Regions from separate parts of the Homo sapiens genome. Here region 2 is reported to be linked to region 1. The links are microRNA targets in miRTarBase. Many come from high-throughput screens and were not tested one by one. Region 1 holds a microRNA gene; the other region holds the end of a gene's coding sequence.

The links. The annotated mature microRNA hsa-miR-200c-3p reads UAAUACUGCCGGGUAAUGAUGGA and lies in region 1 at 1,600-1,622, shown strand. An mRNA with a match to its seed (bases 2 to 7 or 8) in the 3' UTR can be bound and repressed. Matches are read on the target gene's strand: a 7mer-m8 pairs with bases 2 to 8, a 7mer-A1 pairs with bases 2 to 7 and ends in A, and an 8mer does both.
Region 2: miRTarBase lists WIPF1 as a target of hsa-miR-200c-3p. Seed matches in the 3' UTR shown: 7mer-m8 at 1,541-1,547, 8mer at 1,496-1,503 and 7mer-m8 at 1,477-1,483.

The regions. Positions count from the first base shown.
Region 1 is chr12:6,962,143-6,966,832 of GRCh38, forward strand. MIR200C (microRNA 200c) reads left to right here and starts at 1,557; the gene lies at 1,557-1,624. PHB2 (prohibitin 2) reads right to left here. Exons shown (of 10, transcript NM_001144831.2): 8 at 4,282-4,358; 9 at 3,769-3,774; 10 at 3,185-3,570. The coding sequence ends at 3,543. MIR200CHG (MIR200C and MIR141 host gene) reads left to right here and starts at 1,103. Exons shown (of 2, transcript NR_135032.1): 1 at 1,103-1,206; 2 at 2,059-2,305. It overlaps MIR141 (microRNA 141), which reads left to right and starts at 1,955; the gene lies at 1,955-2,049. It also overlaps LOC105369634. RefSeq lists enhancers at 1-215, 216-1,017, 2,800-2,849.
Region 2 is chr2:174,558,514-174,562,824 of GRCh38, forward strand. It overlaps WIPF1 (WAS/WASL interacting protein family member 1), which reads right to left. Exons shown (of 8, transcript NM_001375834.1): 8 at 1,061-4,089. The coding sequence ends at 4,034. Among named protein-coding and RNA genes, the nearest start is that of WIPF1-AS1, 15 kb to the right of the region's middle.

The sequences.
Region 1 (4,690 bases):
AGTCATCCCTCAGGAAGTGCTGGCGCCCACTCCTGGAAAGGCTGAGACAGCACAGGTCCCAAAGCCCAGAGGCTGGGCGTGCATTACTCAGCAAATCCTTACAGAGCCCCCGGCGTCACAGGCATTCACAGTCCCCCGACCTCCTGGAACTTAGGAGGCTGGTCAGGGAGACAGATTCACAAACCGATCACAAGCATCAAATAATTGCAGGCGGGTATTAAGAAGGAAGCAAACAAAGCCTGGGAGAGAGAACAGCGAGGGATTGAGCAACCCAATAGCTCCCTGGGGCTGTGGCCCTCCAGGGCACGGGTGGGGCAATCACCTGTCGGGCCCAGGTCCCCTCTCCCAGCAACGCCCTTTCTATACAAGCCGCAGCTGCACAAAGGCAAGTCCCACCTCCTCTAACCGCCCTTGGGCTACCTGCCCTTGGGGTGGGACTTGGACTCCACTGAGGGCTGTGCTGTGAGGTGGGTCCGGGAGCAGCTCGGTCCGGAGAGTGGAGCGCGATCGTTCCCTCTGCAGGCCTCAATCGAGGGGCAAGGCTGATGCTCCGGGCCAGCTGGGGTCTCTGGGTAGCGGTGGGTAACTTCACACTAGCGACACCTTGCTGGGACCCGCCTGCCCTTCACAGGCCTGGCGGGGCCTTCTCCCTCCCCTTTCCCTCAGGGGATCCCAGCACAGGCTGGGCACTGCGGGGCGGCACAGCCCAACTCCTGCCCAGCTGACCCCTCGCTGACCTCAGGGATCTCTCTGGCCTGCAGCTCCGCTGTGGGCAGGGTCTGAGGCCACAGAGGAATGGGCTAGTCCTGGGGGCAGCATCTGCTGTGGGGAGGGGACCCAAGGACAGCCCCCGCTTTTTGTACCTCTGGAGACAGGGGTGAGACTAGGCAGGTTGGAGAAAAGAGGCCCCTGGGAGAGGGTGGGAGGCCTAGAGGAGTGGCCAAGCCTTAGAGGAGGTGCCCGTGGCTGGCGCTGGGAGGGAAGGGGTTAAGGCAGTGGGGGGGCAGCCTATGGCAGGAGGACACACCTGTGCGCAGGGTGGCAGGCGGGGCCCAGGTAAGGAGCCTGCGCTGGCTGCCCGGCAGGCGGAGAAGGAAGGAGGAAGAGCGGAGGCCAGGGCGGGCTCTAGGCCGTGGAATCTGGGGCCTTAAAGCCCCTTCGTCTCCCCAGCACCCACTCTCTGGGGGCAGGTGGGCCCGGTGACAGGTAAAGGCCACCAGGGGAGAGGTCCTGGGCTGAGCTTGGGACTGCAGAGGGGGGATGAGGGTGGGTAAATCGGTGTGTGTCGCGGGTCGGGAAAGGCTGCCGGGGGTAGGGGAAGGTGGCTCAGAGGCGGCGGGCCGACGGTCGAGGGGCTTCGGAGGGCCTGCTTGGACTGCAACCTGGGCCTCGTGATCAGCGACCCAGGGTGTGGCTGGTGGCGGGCAGCAGGGCTCACCAGGAAGTGTCCCCAGGGACTCGGGTGGTGGGGGGATGGGAGCCAGGGATCTGCAGCTTTTCCGCAGGGATCCTGGGCCTGAAGCTGCCTGACCCAAGGTGGGCGGGCTGGGCGGGGGCCCTCGTCTTACCCAGCAGTGTTTGGGTGCGGTTGGGAGTCTCTAATACTGCCGGGTAATGATGGAGGCCCCTGTCCCTGTGTCAGCAACATCCATCGCCTCAGGTCCCCAGCCCTTAGCTGGCTGCAGCCCCCTCCCCACTTCCCACGCACCCCGGAAGCCCCTCGTCTTGAGCTGAGAGCGTTGCACAAGGGGTGGTTCTTGTTGGCTGGCTGCCACTAAGGGACACAATGGGCCCCAGCCCCTCCTCCCACCCAGTGCGATTTGTCACCTGGTGGATCCAGAACCCACAGTCGACCTTGAGCTTGGGGTTGGCTCGCCCCCTCTCAAGAGACCTCACCTGGCCTGTGGCCAGGGTCCCCTGTAGCAACTGGTGAGCGCGCACCGTAGTTCTCTGTCGGCCGGCCCTGGGTCCATCTTCCAGTACAGTGTTGGATGGTCTAATTGTGAAGCTCCTAACACTGTCTGGTAAAGATGGCTCCCGGGTGGGTTCTCTCGGCAGTAACCTTCAGGGAGCCCTGAAGACCATGGAGGACTACTGACCAACAACCTCTGACCTTCACCCCTCTGGATGGGGGACGAATCACTAGGCAAAGGGGAACAATGGGAAGGAGACAAAATGGCTGCCTTTACAGCTGCAGCAAGATGTGGAAACACTGGTTCCCTAGGCACCTCCATTGTCTTCCCGCCTTGGGAGCATGAAATAAATAAAGTGTGAAGGGGAACATGAGGAAGACTGATCCAAGTCACTTGACCTGTCTTTTGTCTAGTTGTTTATCTCATCTTAGCCTCCCAGCAACTCAGGATTGGGGCTGCGACGTCTGCTTTGTCTTTCATGATACTCAACCCCAAGCAGAGAAAAATATCTTAAAAATCGAAGCAGATTAACCCAGTCCCTCTGTTCAGATCCACCTGCTGCCCTATCTGCATTTGGCAGTTCCTGGACATACTTTGCACCTATGTTTTGTCTGAGTTCCACATCTTCCTTGTCTCCCCGCAGGGATGGGAAATGGGCAGTAGTGGGAGATTCAGGTATAAACGGTGGCTCTGTTTCTCTGGTGCCTGAGATTCGGGAAGGCCTGTCTTGGGAAGATAAGTGTCAGCTTATCTGTGGACTGAACAGACAGGCACCTGTTCTGTTGGCCCCGGAACTGCGGGCATGAAAAGCCCACCTCCCCAGGGGAGGCCTGTTAGCTAGCAGCTCCTCACGCCTGGTGACTGAGAAATGGAGTCTGGGGGGCCTACAGCAGGCCACGCGATCCACTGGGCTTCTGGGCACAGAAGTGCCTCAACAGGCACAGGCAGGCTCCCCACAGCCACAAGGAACCCTGCTGCCAAGGAAGCAGCTCCTGTTGGGGTCATCAGATTTTTAATCTGGCTCAGCAAAGCCATGGCTGTCCAGCCTTAAAAAAATGGGTGATGTGGGAGAAATGGAGGGTGTGTGAAGAGCACAGCTGGGCCTCGAGAACTCAGGGCCAGCCTTCCCAGCTTGGGTCCTGTTTCGGAGCCCAGGCCTTGCTTCCCCTTAGCCGCCCCAGCCAGATTCTTTTGCGCCCCCTGCTGGCACACACAAAGACAGACCCAGGAGCGCACATGTGAACGTGCGCATGCTTGCTGCCAGTTACCCAGTTCATGAACACGTGAAGCCTTGACTTCAGGTTAAGTAATAAAAATTTATTGAGAATTCCTGGGTTGGTGTTTATCTCCTCCCAGCCTTGAGGGAGGGAACAACACTGTAGGAAATCACTGAGAAATCACGCACTGTCCCCAACAGCCCCAGTTAACACAGGGAGGAGGAAAGTAATTCCCCAGAAAAGGGGCTAGTCTTCAGTCTTCCTTAATCCAAGAGGGGTTCAGGGAACCGGTGTGGGGGACCATCGCATGATACTGGGGCGGGGTAGGGCTGTGCTGGACCCCTGGCTGGCTCCTCAAAAACTGGAGAAGCAGATCCACTTCCTCTGGGGGTGGAGTTCTTGGTGACTAGGCTCATTTCTTACCCTTGATGAGGCTGTCACTGTAGGAAAAAAAAGATAGATAATGACATTATTAGGGGACATAAATGTGAGAGGCAGGACACTCTAGGCCATTCCCTCTACGACCCTCCTACCCTGATTGAGGGTTTGTCTTCGGGGAGGTGGGAAAGGGGGTAGGGTAGGAGGCGGGTACTGGAGAAGGTGGCCTGCAGGACCCCACAGAAGCAACAACAGCTTACCTTCCCCTGTGGTGCCAGATCGCCAGATGAACAAGAAACAGAGAAGAGAAATGCACATGTTAATTGACAGCTTCAGGCCCCACTCAGCTTTGAACCCTCCTTTGCTCCCAAGAGAAAAGATAAACAGGGTTGACAGCCAGGAATCTCAGGCTCATGAAAGGAGGAGGCATGTTCTCATGGCCACTGCTATTTCTCATCTCCTTTCCTAACATCCCTCCATTCACCAGAGGAGTTTGAGGGCTCTTGAGTAAGAAAACTGAGTATCATCTTTCATCACTTTTTGGTTAGATGAAAACTTTATAATTAAAGTGCTTTTTATGTGAATAATCCTATTTGATCTCATAAAATCAATCCTATGAGATGCAAGATAGAAACTGTCAACCACCCCCTTTTCTAATTTTGGTTCAATGTCTCTGAGCCATATGAATAGCTGTAGCAGGCTCCAGAGCCCAAACAACCAGACTCAGGTCCCACGTTCTTGGTGATACCCCACAGTGTGGCCACATCTCTCACCTGGTGAAACTTTCATCCTGTAGGTTCAGCACAAGGTTGTCAGCTGTGAGATAGATACGATTCTGTGATGTGGCGATCTACAGGGCAGGAAATAAGACAGATGCTTGCATTAAGCAAAGACCTCAATTCCGACCCCTGCAATTCAGCAGCTACTTAACATGGAACACATGCAGATTAGGGCAGGGGTGCAGCAATGAGTAACACATGGTTTCTGCTCGCACTTAGGGATCCAGAGCGCTGAGCAGCAGCTATGATTAGAACAAAAGGTCAGGGAACCCAGAGGAATCATTCTTGACAGGAGGAGTATCGGAGAAGCCAATTTTTTATTTATTTATTTTTGAGACGGAGTCTTGCTCTGTTGCTCAGGCTGGAGTGCAGTGGCATGATCTCAGCTCACTGCAACTTCCGC
Region 2 (4,311 bases), not on the chromosome of region 1:
GTACAGTGAGAAGTCACATCATTTAGGGCCTTAAATTGCCCATCTGTAAGCCCAGACGTTTGGACTGGATGACCTCTGAGTGGGGTGACCACACGGCCCCATTTTCCAAGGCAACCCAGACTTATACCTGCTTTGCCACTGCAACTATTAGCACCCCTTCCACTCTCAAAAATGTTCCATTGTGGATCATAAATTCTAAGGTTGCCCCATCTGCGAAGTTCTGGCTCTTAATTTCTGTTATTTCATACTGAACCTAATAATACTTCTCTGATGACTGAAGCACGGTAAAATTTCATTTTCCAGGCCTGGAGGTACAGGGAGGATGGTAGGTGAGGTGACCCTTATGTAGAAGTTGCTTTGCATTTCTGATATGGATATTTTTTCAATCTAGGAGCTAGTGCTCCTTTCCTTTAAAAGTACACTAGTAGATCCCCTTCTAGTGGATTTGGCTCCAGTTAATTTGGGATCATTATATAAATATTTGTTTCCTACTTCACACTAATAGTGGCTACTCCTTATTGAGTGCTTACACTAAGGCTAAATGCTGAGTGCATTATCTCATTTAATGCATATATTAATGCTATAAGATAGTTCCTCACCTTATAGATAAGGAAACAGGTTTAGTGAAGTGACTTGCAAGTAAGACACGGAGCCAGGTCTTCCTAAGCTCTTAGCCATTCTTCTATATTGAGATCTGTATGTATACATACAGCAGATAATTAAGAAAGTTATCAGACTCCTAAATTCCCATTGGCCTTTCCTGTATTTATCAGTATCCATGCCAGTCTTTGTAATTTCATCTTCCATTGCTTCAGCCATCCATCTTTACCTCCTAGTACAAACATCTGCCTCAAGTAAACAGATTTTGACTAAGATGCAGATTCTCGGAAAAAACGAAGATGGGATTAGCAAGTAGGTACAATGAATATTTACTTACTTATACAAACCTTTTTTTGTTTGTCTTTCTTTTCCACAGTTTAAAACCGAAAACAGACACTTGTTTTTTTGTTTATATTTACATAAACAATACTTAAAAGAAAAACCACCAGTTGACACCATATCATTCTGCTTTTCTTTATTGTCTGGCTAACTTACAAAGATGCAGATGTCTAGGGTAGTCTCTACCCTACCACTTACACTATCCTGATGACACAGATAGCAAAATGTGTCTGTTTACATAGTGCATGGTATGAAAAAAAAGTTTTTCTTCCTCTACGGTCCTTGACTATAAGGAGGGAAAAATTAATTTCATGCCAACATTTTTGGGGAACTTTAACAATCATCCCATTTCTGCTACTAAAATAACAAAACTGGTATTACACTTTAAAATATAAAGACCTAACAGTTTTTACAAATATGCAAATAATCTACTACTTAGACATAAAAAAAAGTTGATTTCTTTTAAATCACAAAGTAAGGCACCATTGGATTAAACATTTCTCCTGGCTTTTACTAAATAAAATGCATAGTGAAATAAATACTGAACACTGAGTTTTAATACTGTAATACATTTCAATATAAAATAAGAGGTGAATGTTAAAATACTGTATTACATGTTGAATACATTTATCTGAAAATGTTATAAAAAAACACACATGTAAGCTCTGATTTCAGGGAAGAAAAATTCATTTTTGTAATTTTCCATAGTTTAAGATTTTACCACAGAACTTATTCATAGTTTTAGATGCAATTAGGTTGCAAACTTTCAAAGAAAGGGTGTAGGTGTATTAATGAAACAGTCACTTAAACACTACATTCTAAAACAATCTATTCTGGATGAATGGCAACTTTGAGCTATCACCCTGTTTCAGATTTAGAACGGTACCTGCCAAGTTCAGATATGCAAAGGAATTGTCCAATTCTTACTACCCCTTATAAAATTCAGACCCACTTTCTCTGAGTCAGACTTTTCTCCGTCATATTTTCTAGGAAGGGCAAATTCCATCTTTTGTGAAATGGGTCATTAGGCTTTATCATAGGGATGTTTTTCACTGTTGAAATCAGATAAAAGAATCCCAAATAAATGATGCTGCTAAATTACCAAACTGCTAGAGATTAAAAAAATTTTTTTTTAAAAAGCCAACACTTTGCCAAGCTTGTTATACCTTATTATTTCTTGATTCTCTTTGAGTAAAAAGCCCAAATGACTGTATGGAAGAGAGATGAATGGTAGAGGAGAGAGGAAACACAGGTTCTCTAATGTACTAAATCAGGACTTTGGCAAGGAAGTTATAGAAATATAATATATTCAAATCAGTAACTTCATAATTTATTAGACATCCCATTTATTAGAACTCTAAGTTCTTTTGCTTTTATATAAATGAAACATTTATTCTATAAATAGAAATGTATTTTTCAGAATTTTCTTTGGGTTGGTTTCTTGGTAGCATCTCCCAGTAATACATGAATAACATACTGAAACCATGATACAATGTTTAGGTAGATATACATATACATATGTGGTCATGTGTTTTTAAAAAACAAGTAATGGTAATTTTAAACAAAACCATGTAAAATATCTAAGTGGAAATATTTTTTCCCAACTCTATAGCTAGATTTAAAAGTCCCAGTAAAATTTTGTAAACAAAATCATATAAGAAAAGGCAAGGCTGGCTCTTCCCTATGGTCCTTTAGTGGAGCTATATTTGCATAGATCCTAGACAAATGATGCAAAACAAATTCCCTCCAATTTCCACTAGCAATCTCCCTAATTCGCTCAACCCTTACATAAGCATCAGATTTAGATTTTTAGAGTTTTGCCCACCAACTCAAATCGGTTCCCTTCTTCTTCCATGTTTCTGATTTGATATATTTTCCTGACTTTTTTCCCCTCCTACCAAGCCTTCCTAGTCTCTCCCAGCCTCAGGAGCTTGCTCAGCCAGAAAGGAACAAAGGCTGCTTCCATTTCACAAGGCAGAAGTCCAGCTGACAAGTGGAGTGCGTGAGCCAGCTGGTTCTGAGCCCAGAAGTCCCGACAGGCTTTCCATTTGTTTCCAATGGCTTTATTCCACATGACTTTAGTAAACCGTACTCAATCAATTTCTGACCTTGGTACTTTGAAGCAACACTTGTATACAGATATTAAGGGAAGAGGGAAGTTAAGGGAGGAAAATCGAAGGTCAAACTGTGTGTCAAACAAGGTGCTGGGTCCTAATTTTATTTTTAGTTGCCTCTTGAATCGCTCAAGCCCATCTTGCCTTTTTTGTTTTTTAAACAAGAGGTTTCTGCACTAGCTTCCATCTTCCAGACTCGTGCTGTCTAATCCAGTAGCCACCAGCCACATGTGGCTACTGAGCACTTAAAAATGTGACTAGTCTGAATGGAGATGTGCGGTAAGTGTAAAATACACTCTGGATTTTGAAGATTCAGTACCAAAAAATAATATAAAATATCTCATTAAAATTTTATGTTGATTACAGGTTGAAATATTTTGGATGCATATTAACTTCACTTGTTTAAAATATATTAGAAATGTAAAAATTGTATATGGGGCTCACATTATATTTCTATTGGACAGCTCTGTCCTAGAGCCAAGCTCGGACTGCCAAAGATTGGACATCCTGTGACTGCAAGTTTCCAGTGAGCCCTTACTCAGCAGCTTGCTTAGGTGGTCTGTGGTTCATAGAAACAGAGAGGAGGCCAAGCATGCGAAAAAGGAACGGGAGAAAACAGCTCTCAGGGACTTTAATAATTACAGTCTGTAACAAATAAGCAGTGAATGTTTGAATTTGGTTGGTGGAAAGCTGGGATGCAAGTCATCTCTGCCTATTACGACAAAAGCCTATCGACCCCAGCAGCCAGCACAGGCAGGCTGCAGCTGAAGCAAGCAATAGCCTGGAGAATAAACACAATATGAAAAGCTAGGTGCATTTCTTACCGATTCCCACCCACACACGCATATTCCCACTCCCCCTCCCACCTTTCCTCCTGCCCATACATGAGGCACAAGGGAAGAAGCAGGGAGGAGGGTATGCAGTTCTTAGATAGCAACAGAAGCAGCTCTTGAGCTTGGGTAGAGAAGAGCAGGCAAAGATCACCTCGGGATGGGAGGGAGTGGTGGAGCACCCCTTTCTCTTCGGTTGGATCCACCTTGGTGAAAAAACAGACAAAATATAATTTTGGTTAGAAAGCTGATGTTCTCATCGTGGAAACTCGGGGATGGTTGCACGGGTACCCACTACCTCATCCCTATGACCAGGGCTGTCAGCTAACTGGCGTATGTTGTGGATGAGAAGTGAGAGGTGAAAACAAGCAAGTAATGTTCTGAATAAACATCATGGTGGGTGATCCATCACTGGCTCCCAAGTACTT